2 separate regions of the Homo sapiens genome follow, and region 1 is linked to region 2. A link means that fine-mapping ties the variant in region 2 to the plasma level of a protein whose gene starts in the linked region. Region 2 holds a variant in brackets. A gene starts in the other region. All regions are shown on their forward strands.

What was found. A credible set is the group of variants that fine-mapping cannot tell apart. PIP is the posterior inclusion probability: the model's chance that the variant is causal. The UK Biobank Pharma Proteomics Project read protein levels with antibody pairs (Olink). The fine-mapping took linkage between variants from a reference panel, not from the people measured, so its PIPs are less certain.
Region 1: SKAP1 starts here. The variant in region 2 is the best candidate, but not a certain one, in a credible set for the plasma level of the SKAP1 protein (UK Biobank, PIP 0.87).

What each region holds. Positions count from the first base shown.
Region 1 is chr17:48,426,904-48,435,233 of GRCh38, forward strand. It overlaps SKAP1 (src kinase associated phosphoprotein 1), which reads right to left and starts at 3,311. Exons shown (of 13, transcript NM_003726.4): 1 at 3,172-3,311. The coding sequence starts at 3,217. RefSeq lists a silencer at 3,225-3,484.
Region 2 is chr16:30,636,986-30,645,315 of GRCh38, forward strand. No RefSeq gene overlaps it. Among named protein-coding and RNA genes, the nearest start is that of PRR14, 9.8 kb to the right of the region's middle. The variant A/AT (reference allele first, on the strand shown) is at 4,318.

The DNA of each region.
Region 1 (8,330 bases), not on the chromosome of region 2:
AACATGATCACAAGCATAGTAAATGGTCCGTTAGCACTCTGACCTCTCTGAGTTTCTATTTGTCTTTTGTTCCTTTTTCTTTTAAATACCCTTACTGTTTATTTTTTCCTGTTTACAGAAGTAATGCATGGTCATTGTCACAATTCAAACAACACAAAGATGTATGAAATAAAAATTAATAACCTCCCCTCCTCCAAACTCTCAGTCTTCTCTCAAGGAAGCCAATGTTAACAGTCTGGTATATATTCTTTTTTACTTATTCCTAGGCTTACACAAATATTTATAACATATGTGGCTTTTCTTGTTTTGTCTTTTGGTTTTCAAGCAAAAATGGGATATTACATGTACTATCATGCATTTTGCCTTTTAGTCTTAAAAATATGCCATGGACACTTTCCAAGCCTATATATAGATCCACAGAATACTCTTTTAGTGGCTGTGAAGTATTCCATGAGACAAATGTCCCATAATTCATTCAACCATCACCCTGAGTCTCCCAACTTATTAACATTTAGCATAGATCTTCGTGCATATACTACTTCATGACCTTTCACTTCAGTGACAGATTTTTAGAAGTGAGGTTTCTAGGTCGAGTGAAACATTTCCAAGTGTCTCAAATTTTATATTTAAACAAAATTAATTTTAGGCCTTGGGAATTTCTGTTCTCTTCATTATGCAAAATTTTGTTATCTACCTTTCACAATGCTTTACATATTTTATTCTTAAAAGCACACACATTATGTCAAAAAATGCCCCTGTCATTTATGCTTGTGTAGTTATAAATAAATAAATGCTTAAGTTATGGCTGTGATGTCCAGTGTTAAATCACTGTGCAAATGCTTATGCCTTGGTTTATGAAAGTAGTAATTCATTGTGGAAACCCCACCCCCACAGCCATGTGGCAGCACTAGAGTTGCAGCCCTCACATCCTGTGACTCCCTCCCACAGAGTGACTATATAGAGATCAGGACCTCCATTTTTTCTAATTGTCAACAGTTAACCTTAAAAAGTGTGTGGTGGGGGAGACAAATAGCAACAAACAACAAATTGATGGCCATTTTGGGTTTCTAATATGGACAGATTATTTGTAACACAATGAATAATCCTCCTGGTCTACACCAGCGACTGTGTTCCAAAAGAAATAAAACTTGTAACCAATATATTGCTATTATTATTACAGGAACCTTTAAAAAACATATCTTCAAACATTTTTCAATAGAATTACTGGATGAATCACACTTTACATTTTTTTCTCTACTTCAGATTCAAGTTCTAATTGCAAACTTAAAAAAAAAAGCCTTAAAGAAATACATTAACCAACGAAGCTCCTTATAATTTGGTTTCAGACTCCTCCATATATTTTAAAGACCTGAGCACCAACAGAGATTGTTAAGATACAGCAAGCTTGATACAGAAGTATGCGACATGCAATTAATCTCCATTCATACCCCGCTCTACTTGTCAGCAAACAAAGGTTCTGCTTTAGAAGGAGATCTGAAGACTTCAATTAAAAACAGTCAGCTAACAAGAAAATAATCTAAGCTAAAGGAAGGTGGCAGGTGCAGAAATGAGTTGTTTACCAAAGTGTCAGTTTTGAACAATGAAGAACTGCACATCAAAAATGCTGAAGGAATGGATTTCATTGCAAGCCTCTGAAAATAAAAAGGAATTTTCTACCAAGCCTAGACACAAAACTGAAGTATAGTTTAATAAGCTTATAAAATAGGTTTCCTCTCATCAAATGACAGATACCAATAAAAAGAATCAGTTTATATATTTCAATGCAAGGGCAGAGTTAAACTTTTTGCCACAGTCCCTTCTTTCCTAGAAACCAAAGACAATTACAGCCTTCCTTCACAAGCCTAATATTAAACCAACAACAGAGGGAAAGGCTGGATTGTTTCTTCTTAGACACCCAGATAATTCTCTTTTACCCTGCAAATAGTTTTCTACCCCCAAAATTTAGATTTATTCTGATCGTAAGTAAAACGGATTTTGGAAACCTCACCTCAAAAGAAATATCTAGCTGACAGCTTTTACATAGAAGCAATCCAGAATGGAAATAGTGCTACAGACAGAGACCAAAAGGACTTGCCAAATATTTGATTAGGAGGCATTTATACCGAGATAACAAGGTAATGGAGATATAAAACCAATTAAATTGAGAGAAACTGAAAAAAAATACTGCTTGCCAAAAATATGACCTGCCCAAAGCAGGCCGTCTGTTAAATATGTGTCAACTATGTCAACTTAGATGCCAAAAGGCTTAATTCTGAATAGTTTCCTCCTGGGAGCCTTATGCGACTGCAGATTCCAGGCCTCTGTCCTCCCTGGAAGGTTAGTTACAGGAAAGCAAGTAAAAGTGACTTCCACCACGAAACCCAGCAGATGAAACTGCCCGTTAGCAACGTCTCTTTGTGACATCTCTTTGGAGTGTTGGCAGTGTGTGTTGAGTGTTGACGGGGATGGCCGGAACTCTTTAAACCACCGCTTAGACACTGTAGTTGGAAGGTGAACACACCACAATGGGAGTTGGAAGGTGAACACACCACAATGGGGGCACTTCTAGAAAAGGAGGAAATCCCATACTGAGAATGAGCCTGCCTTGGGGTGGGTGAGACCCCTAGACGTCTGCAGGGTGATAAAGGGAGGGCTGGGGTTTTCGCACTGACAAAAACTCACGTCAACCACCTGGCCTTGGCCCATGGGGATCCCATGAGCCCCTCGCAGCCCCCTGGAGAGCCTCGGGGACCTCTAAGCAGGAAGGTTTGGGGTCTTCTGTGAGAGGTGAGGAAGTCGTGGCTGGGGAAGGAGGGGGACGGGAAACCCTACAGATGTAGGGCAGTCCTTTGGAGAAAGGGACAGGTCGGAGACCAGGCAAGGTGGCATGGGGGACCAAGAACCTGGCCTGAGGACTTTAGAAGCCGGGGAGGTGAAGTGGAGGCGTGGAGGTGCCTCAAGGCAAAAGAAGATGTGGGACTCCAGGGAGTGAAAGGGGCCCTGAGGTGAGAGGATGGAAAGCTGGCTCTAGGGAGTTGAGGGCTCTAGAAGCCTTAAGGTTCTAGAAGGAGGTGAGTGACGAAGCCGTAAAGAAAGCCTGGCCGTGGGAGGCCTGGTGTCCCCTTTCGGCCTTCGGCTCAGCACTGGAGGGGGCCTGCGCCAGGGCGTTACCTTCCAGGAGCCAACGGATCTCCTCAGGGAGGGCGGCGGCCTGCATTTGGCTGGGCGGGAGAGAGGCGGGACGGGGCGCGGGCCCTGGTCGGGAGGCGGACGGGCTGGAAGGCGACCCGGCTGCACCGCGAGGCACCTGTACCTCAGCCGCGGTCGCCGCCCGCCCAGCCCGGCCGCGGGGCGGGGCCGTGGGTCCCCGGGCGCGTCAGGAAGTGGCGCGGGCGGCAGGCGGGGACCGGAACGGGGCGCGGGGCGTGGGTGCACGTGGCGCTCACGCCGGAGCCCCACGGTAGAAGGATTGGGGGTGCCGGAAGCACCGCACCGTGCGAGGCCAAAGGTGCGCCCCTCCAGCACCCACCAAAACAAAAGACTTCACAAGGCTCAAAGGACCCACGGCTTTGGACACTCCATCCTAAGCACCGAACAGTTGACCTCACGGTGGCAGATTTGAAAGACCACGGGGTGCCTGAAGTAGGGTGCAGGGAGGCAGAATCCAAGGAAGAGATCCCCGTCAAGCATAGCACCCCTCAATTGCCGGTCCAGTTCACATCTCCATCCCCAGAAAAGAGGGCAAAACTTCGCTCTTTGGGAAGCCACAATGTTGAAAGGAAATGATTAATTCCCAATAAGCAATATAAGGACACCAACATTTGGGAGAATCGCGGCAGCGTGGCAGCAAGGGACACAGGAAACCAAACTGTGCTGTTCTCCCTCAGGATGGAAAGGCCCTGAGGAAAGGAAGGGGTAACACAGGGAGAAAGCTGAGGGAGAGGAGAACAGAGCCCTTTCCCTCCAGGAGCTGCGGAAGGGAGGAAAGTGAAGGACAAAATCACACGGTCTCATTCAAGGGACAGTTGGTGTCAGTGTCCTGGTTGTGACATGGTACTGTAATAGTGCCAGATGTTACCCTTGGGGGAAACTGGGTAAAGGTAGACAGAGTTCCTCTATTATTTCTGAAACTCTCTGTGAATCTATAATTCTCAAAATAAAGAGGTTTTTTAAGTACAATAGGTCAACTGCCATGAAAAAAGTATAAAGTGCTATGGTTGATAAAAGAAGGGAGCTGAATACCAGAAAAGGAGGGAAGAGGCCAGGCATTGTGGCTCACACCTGTAATCACAGCACTTTGGGAGGCTGAAGCAGGAGGATCACTTGAGCCCAGGAATCTGAGGTTACAGCCAACTATGATCACCCCAGTGTACCCCAGCCTGGGCAACAGAGCAAGACCCTGTCTCTTAAAAAAGAAAGAAAATAAAAAGAAGTGCCAGTGTGCATGTGAGTGTTTAAAGGTGCATGTGGTGTTTGAGATGGGCTCTGAAAAACACACCAGACTTTGAAGGGGCAGAGGACTTTCCAGGTGGAAGGACCAGAGTAAAGAAAGATGGAAGAGCCCTCACCAGCTTGAGGAATAGTTAGTAGCCCTCTTTTACTGGATGTTGTAGAAAGACTATGGTTGTCAAGATAAACTGCAGCTCTACTGTGAAGGGACTTGAAAGTCAGAATAGGAATGTTGAACTTAATTGAGAGGGCACTGGGGAGCCATTGACAATTTTTGAGATTGGGAATGACCTAACCAGAGCTCCGGGGTGGTATGTGGCCTCACACATCTCCACCTCTGCCTTTTTCCTTCTTTGTAAAAAATGGCATTTCTATTCTCAGACTCAACCTACAGAATATGTAGAAAAGATTAGGAGTGGTGGGAAAAGACACAGGGGGAAGTGGGTAAAATGGTTTTTACAACAGCCATAAGGGGAATAATGATGGACTCAATCTAGCAGACGGGGCAAGAGCAGTAAGAAGAAACCATCGAGAAGGATGAGTGTGATAAAAGTGCCTGCCTCCTTGTACTGTTTCCCATCCAGAGATACAGCCTCAAAGATGAGGGTGTGATCCTTTAAGGAGTACAGTGCATCCTGCCATCTGAAAAGCAGTGGTGCATTGGTTTCAGTGTCACATGACCCACCTACAAGCTGCAGTAAATTGGGGTGAGGGGACAGAGGCTGGCATGAGCCTCTCTGGGGTATCTGGCTCCTGCTCATCCTCCTTCCTGCCCTGAGAAAGTATAGTAATGGGTGGCTGGGCACAGTGGCTCACGCCTATAATCCCAGCACTTTGGGAGGCCAAGGCAGGCGGATCACGAGGTCAGGAGTTTGAGGTCAGCCTGACCAATATAGTGAAACCCCGTCTCTACTAATAATACAAAAATTAGCTGGGCATGGTGGTGCACGCCTGTAATCCCAGCTACTCGGGTGGCTGAGGCAGGAGAATCACATGAACCCGGGGGGCGGAGGTTGCAGTGAGCCGAGATCAGGCCATTGCACTCTAGCCTGGGTGACAGGGCAAGACTCCATCTCAAAAAAAAGAAAGAAAGAAAGAAAGAAAGTATAGCAATGGGCAGACTACCCCTTTCAGGCTTGGGATCAAGTACCAGGTACCCCCATGGCATTTTTACCAACTTCACCACTTCACCTATAAAATTGTAGCTGCTCTAGAATCATTTTGAAGTACTTATGAGGCATACTAAAAAGCAAGGAAAGATACATGGGAACTGTCTGTGCTATCATCTCAATTTTTTTTTGGTAAATCTAAACTGTTACACAAAAAATACAGCAAGGGCAGCAAAGTCTCCCCATATGTCAACCTAAACTTTGCCTTGCTTTCCTTCTTGGCAACAGAAGAAAATTTGATAACCTCCCCCTCTTCTTCAAGGATATGGTGTCACATACTAATATAAGCTACCAGCTAATGAATTGTTTGATAAAGAGCAGTAAACCCAGGTAATTGCACTTCTTTGCAGGCTTCACTGCCTGTCATAGCTTACTTACACCAAAAACTCACAGTGTACGTATTCTATATGCATCCTTCCTTACAAGAATCTCTGGGTTTTAGAGAGACAGGGGTAGAGGGAGGTGCACAGTCGGGTAGTATGTAGTGAGTGACTGGCAGATTCCAATACGGTATTGTCATGTTGCATCAAGGTTCCTCATTGCAGACAGAAATCTGCCTCCACACATGAACGCAGCCCTTCCTTAATCATCTGAGGACCCTGTTTCAGCAGTCAGCCCCACTCCTAATGACATTCTGTTAAATGGACAAATTCCTTTGAAGCCTTGTCCTTTTTTGAAATCCAATTTCGCAGGAAGCCAAATCTGATTGGGGGTAGCCATGGAAACCACATGGAGGAGTCTTAGAGGAGGTGAAGAGAGGCAAGGCAAAACGTGATAGTCACGAGTCCTTTACTGTTCTGTCAGAAATATCAAAGCAATCTGGAGAGGTTGGCAGTAGCTGAGTCCCTGCCTGGGTCCTGTTCTGTGTGGCTGGGTACTATGTGGCTGTCATGGAAGAAAGCAGCCAGCTGTCTCTGCACACAGGCAGGAGGACAGAACAGAATACACAAATCTCAGGTCTGTCTGCCTCCCTTTTCTTCCCGTCCCCCCCAGACCCAATTCCAGCAAGATCTTAGCATCCTCTTCTTAGCTGCCTGCCCCTTAAAGACAAACAACAAAAGAATGACAAGGTTAAAATACAAGGCCCTCACAGATAAGAGGTCCTTTGGAGCAGAGGCCATGAAATTAATCTGGAATTCCTTGTAATTAGATAAGATAAGGGGATCTAAAGAGATGTAGAACAGCCAGGAATGGAGTCCAGCAGCACAACATGCAGAAAACACACCGCCTTGTCCACCGGGACCCTTCACGCACTGTCAGCAGACAGAAGACACAGAAAATAGGGCCCATATTGGCCTCTGAGCTTCTTGGGAATGCTGTCTACATGTTCTCATGCCAGGTGGGCACTCGCTAAATAGGCATCTATGGGATGTCCAGAGGGACCAATCAGGAAGAAACAAAAGCATCTGGCACCCAGAATGGCATGCAGTGGGAACACAACTGCAAGCAAAGCAGGAGCTGGCTGGCACCGCTCTGCCCTGGCTGAAATGGGTCTGGAGAGGAAACTGCAGAGGGCAGGCTCTGAGGCTTTATTCTGAGCTGGTTATTGATCCCTGAATGCTGGGTCATGACATGTGGCGGAGCTGACGTCTGCCCTATGGATGTGCAGCCACTGCCTCTCAGCCTCTCGGTCCCAACCCCATCAACCGGGTTTATTGACTCTTTTATTGACAATGCTGGGGCCTAATGAGGCCAAGAGCTGCACACTTCATTAAGAGATGTGGAAGGAGAGATGATGCATCCTGTCGGTGCCAAGAACCAGGCTCACTGTATGTTTTGCAAGGCTCCAGAAACCAAGCATCATGCCACCTTGAAGGCAGAGGAGATGGACATAAGATGCTAACTTGGGCACGTTACTTCAGTGGCCTAAAAATGAAGTTTCCACGGCTTGCCAGAAGCCTTGTTCTTACCAATTAGCTAACTCTTCAACTTAGGAGGGTCCTGTTATACACACACTCACACAAATACACTTCCAATGGTCTCCCCTTCCAGCTCACACTCCTAGATTCTCTGCCTTAATACATACAACAAAATAAGCAGCTTCTCATATCACATCAGGAAACAATTCCATAAGCAGGTTCTCAGTGAGGTACAGGCTTGGAACAGTATGAGGGACTATATAAAAACTCAAAAGAATCTTCAAAGGGAGCAAATTCAAGATAAGGAACAGACCCAGCACTATACCCAGGGTCCCCCAGCTTACCAGGAGCTGTGCATTAGAATCAGGTACAAAGCTCTTGTAGAACTGAAAAATACCTAAGATAGATAGTTACAGCCTAGGGATCACTGAGCCACTCTACGAAGTCATCACTGTTGGCCCTCCTCCATCTAAATAGTAATGTTTCATTCCCAGCACTTTGGGAGGCCGAGGCAGGGGGATCACTTGAGGCAGGGGGATCACTTGAGGCAGGGAGTTGGAGACCAGCCTCGGCAACATAGTGAGACCCCTGTCTCTACAAAAAATTCAAAAATTTCAAAAATTAGCTGGGCATGGTGGCATAAGCCTGTAGTCCCAGCTACTCTTGAGGCTTAGGCAGGAGGATTGTTTGAGCCCAGGAGTTCGAGGTTGCCGTGCCACTGCACTCCAGCCTCGGCAACAAAGCTGAGACCCTGTCTGAAATAAATAAATAAATAGTAACATTTCTTTCTTTCTTCTTTATCTTATCTATCACTCCTCTTATTATTTTTTCTCTATTGTTCCCAATCCTTTTT
Region 2 (8,330 bases):
AACCCCATCTGTACTAAAAATACAAAAATTAGCTGGGTGTGGTTGTGTGAACCTGTAATTCCAGCTGCTCAGGCGGCTGAGGCACGAGAATAGCTTGAACCCAGGAGACAGAGGTTGCAGCAAGCTGAGATCGCACCACTGCACTCCAGCCTGGGTGATAGAGTGAGACTCAGTCTCAAAAAAAAAAAAAAAAAAACCACATTTCTGCCCAGGCGCATTGGCTCATGTCCATAATCCAGCGCTTTGGGAGGCTAAGGTGGGTAGATCACCTGAGGTCAGGAGTTGGAGACCAGCCTAGCCAAAATGGTGAAACCCCTTCTCTACTAAATACAAAAAATTAGCTGGGCGTGGTGGCAGGTGCCTGTAATCCCAGCTACTCAGGAGGCTGAGGCAGGAGAATCGCTTAAACTGGGAAGGCGGAAGTTGCAGTGAGCTGAGATCGTGCCATTGCACTCCAGCCTGGACAACAGCGAAACTCTAAAAAAAAAAAAAAAAAATTAGCCGGGCGTGGTGGCATCCGCCTGTAATCCCAGCTACTCAGGAGGCTGAGGCAGGAGAATCACTTGAACCCAGGAGGTAGAGCTTGCAGTGAGCCAAGATCGCACCATTGCACTCCAGCCTGGGCAACAAGAGTGAAACTCCATCGCAAAAAAACATAATAGTAAGGCCGGGCGCGGTGGCTCAAGCCTGTAATCCCAGCACTTTGGGAGGCCGAGGCGGGCAGATCACAAGGTCAGGAGATCAAGACCATCCTGACTAACACGGTGAAACCCCGTCTCTATTAAAAATACAAAAAATTAGCTGGGTGTGGTGGCGGGTGCCTGTAGTCCCAGCTGCTCAGGAGGCTGAGGCAGGAGAATGGCATGAACCTGGGAGGCGGAGCTTGCAGTGAGCCGAGATCGTGCCACTGCACTCTAGCCTGGGCGACAGAGCAAGACTCCATCTCAAAAAATAATAATAATAATAATAATAATAAATAAATAAAATATATTTCCCCAAGGTTCAAGCCTCCACCCTCTTTGCCTTGGTTTCAATATACTGTAGGCCAGTGATTCCCAACTGGGGGTGACTGCTCCTAGAGGGCATTTGGCAATGTCTGGAGACATTTTTGTTTGTCACAAATGGGCAGAAAGACAGGGAGGAGACGTAGGTGCTACTGACATCTAGTGGGTAGAGGCTAGGGATGCTGCTATTAATACTACATCCTACAATGCACAGGACAGCTCTTCACAGGAATTATCTGGTCCAAAATATTAATTGCTCTGAGGTTGAGTAACCCCCTTCTAGGCCAACACATCTAAATGGCTGCTAAATATTTTCACATGATTATTGGGTTATGAGTTTATTTTTCCTAGAAACTTTCACTGACTACTCAATTAGACTTCCCTCCTGTTACTAGCAATATTAGACCTAATGTCCCAAAACATGGGTGTTATCTGAGTCCTTCCTTTCCATGCTTTTCCCTGCCAGTCCTGAGAGTCCATTATGTACTGGTAGATTAGGATAAATCAGTTATTTTATTTAAAAATGTTCATTCTGAGGCCAGGCACAGTGGCTCACGCCTGTAATCCCAGCACTTTGAGAGGCCCAGGAAGGCAGATCATCTGAGGTCAGGAGTTCGAGACCAGCCTGGCCAACATGGTGAAACCCCATCTCTACTAAAAATACAAAAATTAGCCGGGCATGGTGGTGGGCACCTGTAATCCCAGCTACTGGGGAGGCTGAGGCAGGAGAATCACTTGAACCTGGGAGGCGGAGGTTGCAGTGAGTTGAGATGGCACTATTGCACTCCAGCCTGGATGACAAGAGCAAAACTCTGTCTCAACAACAACAACAACAACAACAACAACAACGGACCGGCGCAGTGGCTCACGCTGGTAATCCCAGCACTTTGGGAGGCTGAGGCGGGAGGATCACCTGAGGACAGGAGTTTGAGAGCAGCCTGGCCAACATGGCGAAACCCCGCCTCTACAAAATAAAATGAAATAAAATAATACAAAAATTAGCCAGATGTGGTGGCAGGCGCCTGTAATCCCAGCTACCTAGGAGGCTGAGGCAGGAGAATTGCTGGAACCCAGGAGGCAGAGGGTGCAGTGAGCCGAGATCACACCACTGCACTCTAGCCTGGGCGACAGAGCAAGACTCTGTTTCAACAACAACAAAAATAAATAAATAAAAAATTGTCCTAGCAGCCGGATGCGGTGGCTTATGCCTGTAATCCCAGCACTTTGGGAGGCCGAGGCGGGTGGATCACGAGGTCAGGAGTTGAAGACCAGCCTGACCAATATGGTGAAACCCCGTCTCTACTAAAAATACAAAAATTAGCTGGGTGTGGTGGCAGCCACCTGTAATCCCAGTACTTGGGAGGCTGAGGCAGAGAATTGTTTGAACCTGGGAGGCAGAGGTTGCAATGAGCCAAGATCATGCCACTGCACTCCAGCCTGGGCAACAGAGTGAGATTCCATCTCAAAAAAAAAGAAAAGCAAAAATTATCAGGGTGTGGTGGCAGGTGCCTGTAATCCCAGCTACTCGGGAGGCTGAGGCAGGAGAATTGGTTGAACCCAGGAAACAGAGGTTGCAGTGAGCCAAGATTGCACCACTGCACTCCAGCCTGGGCAACAGAGCAAGACTCCTTCTCAAAAAATAAAAAATTGTCCTAGCATGGTGGTGTGCGCCTGTAGTCCCGGTTACTTGGGAGGTGGAGGTGGGAGGATCCCTTGAGCCTGGGAGGCAGAGGTTGCAATGAGGTGAGATTGTGCCCCTGCACTCCAGCCTAGGCAAAAGAGTGACACCCTGTCTCAAAAAAAATAAATAAATAAAACAAGAAAACAGAGTCAGGTGCTCATGCCTATAATACCAGCACTTTGGGAGGCCGAAGTGGTAGGACTGCTGGGGTCCAAGAGATCAAGATAACCTGGGTAACAAAACAAGACCCTGTCTCTACAAAAAATTAAAACATAAAAACTTAGCTGAGCGTGGCAGTGCGTGCCTGTAGTCCCAACTACTCAGGAGGCTTAGGCGGGAGGATCGCTTGAGCCCAGTGGCTAGAGGCTGCAGTGAGCCATGCCTGCACCGTTGCACTCCAGCCTGAGCAACAGAGCAAGACCCTGTCTCTTAAAATAAAAATTAGGGCTGGACGTGGTGGTCATGCCTATAATCCCAGCACTTTGGGAGGTGAGGCAGGTGGATCACTTGAGGTCAGGAGTTCAAGACCAGCCTGGCCAACATGATGAAACCTGTCTCTACTAAAAATACAAAAATTAGCTGAGCATGCTGGTGTGCACCTGTAATCATGAAAAGTCAGGATTAAAACCATGCGTATATGTTCGTGTTTATATAAAAAATGAATTTAGATTCTCTACTCAGTTATTAACCTGTTCTCATGTACATGGATGGCCATGGGGCATTCTGCAAATGATGGTGGAGGAGGGACAGTTTTTCACTAAGTGAGACTGTCTGGCACTGTGTAGGACACAACTGATCCCCATGGGTTAACCCATTAATGCCAGAGGTCCTCCATCACTCACTGCGACCAAAACACCCCCTCCTAAAAATTCACAAAACAACCCCTAAGGGGTGGCACTGCCCCTGAGGAGAGCCACTGCTTTCAGGCCACGGAATTAGAGCACAAGGTTCAGCATCTGAGGCGGGATCTGCAGGGATTGGGAGGTGAAAGGATTATTCAGGACTCAGGGAAGCTCAGCTTAATTGGAAGAAAAAGGTAGTGGGGAAAAAATGGGGGGTACAAGCATATGACAACTTCAATATGACAACTTCACCAAATCTCCTAGCAAAGCCCTACCCAAGCATTACATACTGACATATACATTACTTAAATTTTTATTTTTTTGAGATGTAGTCTTGCTCTGTTGCCTAGGCTGGAGTGCAGTGGTGCAATCTCAGCTCACTGCAACCTCCGCTTCTAGGTTCAAGAGATTCTCCTCCCTCAGCCTCCTGAGTAGCTGGGACTACAGGCATGCACCACTATGCCCAGCTAATTTTTGTATTTTTAGTAGAGATGGTGTTTCACCATATTGGCCAGGCTGGTCTTGAACTCCTGACCTCGTGATCCACCTGCCTCGGCCTCCCAAAGTGCTGGGATTACAGGCATGAACCACTGCGCCCAGCCAAAATATATATATATAGAGAGAGAGAGAGAGAGAGAGAGAGAGACAGGTTCTGGCTCTGTTGCCCAGGCTGGATTGCAGTCGTGGCATCTCAGCTCACTGCAACCTCTGCCTCCTGGGCTTAAGCCATCCTCCCACCTCAGCCTCCGGAGTTGCTGGGACTACAGGCTCACACCACCATTCCTGGCTA[A/AT]TTTTTTTTTTTTTTTAGAGACAGGGTTATGCCATATTGCCCAGGCTGGTCTCAAACTCCTGAACTCAAGCAGTCTGCCTGCCTCAGCCTCCCAAAATGCTGGGATTACAGGCGTGAGCCACTGCTCCCAGCGTATTTAAAAAATTTTTTAAAGAATAATGTAATACAGAAAAGTGCACAAACCCTAAGTGTAGGCTCAATGCATTGTCACAAAGTAAACACACCCATATCAAGAAACCAGTACCCATATCAAGAAACCAAAACATTGGCTGGGTGTGGTGGCTCATGACTACAGTCCCAGCCCTTTGGGAGCTGAGGCTGGGGAGGAATGGGTGAGGCCAGGAGTTCAAGAGGAGCCTGGACAACAGAGTGAGACCCCCTCTCTACAAAAACAAAACAAAACAAAAAATATATACATATATATTTAGCTGGGCATGGGGGTTCACACCTGTAGTCCCAGCTACTTAGGAGGCTGAGGTGGGAGGATTGCTTGAGCTCAGGAGTTCAAGGTTGCAGTGAGCCATGATCGCAACACTGCACTCAAGCCTGGGCAACTGAGCAAGACCCTCCCTCCTTTTTTTTTTCTTTACTCTACTTCTCTCCAGCAGAGACCCTGTCTCTACAAAGCAAAACAAAACATCTGTAGCATCCTAAAGGCTCATGTCCCTCCTAGTTACTACCCTACCACAAGAGTAACCACTAGTTCAATTTATTTTTCTTTATTTTCTGTTAGAGATGGGAGTCTTGAACTCCTGGCTTCAAACAATCCTCCCATCACAGCCTCCCAAGTAGCTGGGGTTACAGTTGTGAGCCACCATGCCCACCGTGTAGTTGTAACATTTATTTTTTATTTTATTTTTATTTATTTATTTTTTTATTTTTTGAGATGGCGTTCCGGTCTTATTGCTCAGGCTGGAGTGCAATGGTGCGATCTCGGCTCACTGCAGCTTCCGCCTTCCGGGTTCAAGTGATTCTCCTGCCTCAGCCTCCCGAGTAGCTGGGATTACAAGCATGTGCCACAACATCCAGCTAATTTTGTACTTTTAGTAGAGACGGGGTTTCTCCATGTTGGTCAGGCTGGTCTCAAACTCCCAACCTCAGGTGATCCACCCATCTCGGCCTCCCAAAGTGCTGGGATTACAGGCGTGAGCCACCGCGCCCAGCCTGTAATATTTATTTATTTATTTATTTATTTATTTATTTATTTATTTATTTATTTTTGAGACAGAGTCTAGGCTGGACTGCAGCAGCACGATCTTGGCCCACTGCAACCTCTGCCTCCCCAGTTCAAGCAATTCTCACACCTTAGCCTCCTGAGTAGCTGGGATTACAGGTGCACACCACCATGCCCAGCTAATTTTTTGTATTTTTAGTAGAGACGCAGTTTTGCCATGTTGGCCAGGCTGGTCTCAAACTCCCAACTTCAGGTGATCTGCTTGCCTTGGCCTTCCAAAGTGCTGGGATTACAGGCATGAGCCAATGTGTCCAGCCTATATTGACTTTTAAAAGTAGTATTATAGATGTTTTATTTATCTATTCATTAATTTCATCAGAGTAAAAGGAGTGTTCAAAACTTTTTTTTTTTTTTTTGGCCGGGCACAGTGGCTCATGCCTGTAATCCCAGCAGTTTGGGAGGCCGAGGTGGGCAGATCACGAGGTCAGGAGATTGAGACCAGCCTGGCCAACATGGTGAAACCCCGTCTCTACTAAAATACAAAAAATTAGCTGGGCATGGTGGCACGTGCCTATAGTCCCAGCTACTCCGGAGGCTGAGGCAGGGGAATTGCTTGAATCCAGGAGGCGGAGGTTGCAGTGACCCGAGATTGTGCCACTGCACTCCAGCCTGGTGACAGAGCGAGACTCTGTCTCAAAAAAGAAAAAACAAAACAAACAAACAAAAAAAACTTTTTTTTTTTTTAAGACGTGTGGCCAGGCCCAGTGGCTCACACCTGTAATCCCAGAGCTTTGGGAGGCTGAGGCAGGAGGATCACTTGAGCCCAGGAGTTCAAGACTAGCCTGGGCAACATAGCGAGACCACCCTTATCTCTATAAAAATTTTTCTTTTTTTTCTTTTTTTTTTTAAGGCAGAGTCTTGCTCTTTCGGGCAGGCTGGAGTGCAGTGGCATGATCTCAGCTCACTGCAACCTCCACCTCCCGGGTTCAAGCATTCTCCTGCCTCAGCCTCCCAAGTAGCTAGGATTACAGGCTCGAGCCACCACACTGGGCTAATTTTTTGTATTTTTGTTAGAGACGGGGTTTTGCCATGTTGGCCAGGCTGGTCTTGAACTCCTGACCTCAAATGATCTGCCCACCTCAGCCTCCCAAAGTGTTGGCATTACAGGCATAAGCCACCGCACCCAGCCCAAAAATTGTTTCTTAATTACCCGGGTGTGGTGGCATGTGCCTGTAGTGTTAGCTACTTGGGAGGCTGAGGTGGCAGGATCACTTGAGCCTGGGAGGTCAAGGCTACAGTGAGCTATGATCACGCCAATGCACCCAGCCTGGGTGACCAAGCCAGACTCTGTCTCAAGAAAAAAAAGGCATGTGTTAGCTCTGATGGGCTGACAACCAAATTATCTACATTCTCCTCAATTTCTGCCCCTGGATCTCTGCACTTGCAGTGATGACTGATGCACAGTCTTCCTTCCCAACTCCCTTTCCTTAAAGTCACATTGTTCATCACCTTCTCTGGGAAGCATTCTCCTGTAGCTCTGCAATGTGCCCTTTTGGGAACCTGTACATAAGTTGAGTTGAGCATTTATCTCATCGTGTTGGTCTATTTCATTGTCTCTGAAGACAAGGACGCTCACTGTCTTGTCCACCATAGTGTTTTTGTGTCTGGCTCATTGCTGGAGTTCAACAAATGTACTGAACAAATAAATAGACACCTCAGCCCATATTTAGAGCCCTCCTGCCCCCACAAAAACCTTGACTGTCCCATGTTTAGGCCTTCCTCTTTCTCTAGAGCAAAGGTCACAGTGGTGTGAATCTGTTTTCTGTCTCTTAGACCTCAATGCCTCAGCATTGCCACTCTAGCCATGAGTATTGATCTCCAGACACCTCTATCTGGAAATTTTTTTTTTTTTTTTTAGAGACAGGGTCTCACTCTGTTGCCCAGGCTGGAGTTCAGTGGCTCCATAAACAGCTCATTGCAGCCTTGACCTACCGGGCTCAAGTGATCCTCCTGCCTCAGCCTCTGGAGTAGCTGGGACTCCAGTTGCAGGCCACCATCCCCGGCTGGACTCGCTTTCTGAATGTTGCCTAGATCTGGCCTCCACATGAAAGTATAGGATGCCAGGAATCACCTTTAGACAAGCTGGCAGCTGCCCAGCCCAGCTTCCTCCACTTCATCTGAGCCATCTGTCCTCAGAGGCACCATCAGTGCTCATTTTCTTTTTTTTTTTTTTTTCAGGTGTGACAGCAGCATTCAAAACGACTTTAAGGATTATGTCTGCAATGCAGACTTTACACCTCTCCTGCAAATGGCCCATCCTCTAAAATATCTGCACAGTAATTGCAAGTGGGGACTTTCAAAATTCAGATATTCCATTTTATTTAATGCTGAAACACTAGTACCTACATTTGTTGGTGATGATTAAGTCTGGGTCAAATCAAGACAGAGAAACCACATGGTAATTTGAACAAGGAAAGGTTTAATATTTTAAAAAAATCAACAATAGCCAAGTGCAGTGGCTCATGCCTGTAATCCAAGCACTCTGGGAGGCCGAGGCGGGCAGATCACGAGTTCAGGAGATCGAGACCATCCTGGCTAACACGGTGAAAACACATCTCTACTAAAAATACAAAAAATTAGCTGGGCATGGTGGTGGCAGGCACCTGTAGTCCCAGCTACTCGGGAGCCTGAGGCAGGAGAATCTCTTGAACCCAGGCGGCAGAGGTTGCAGTGAGCTGAGATCATGCTACTGCACTCCAGCCTGGGTGACAGAGTGAGACTCCATCTCAAAAAAAATAATAATAATATAACAATAACAGAGGATTAGAGAAATGATTAG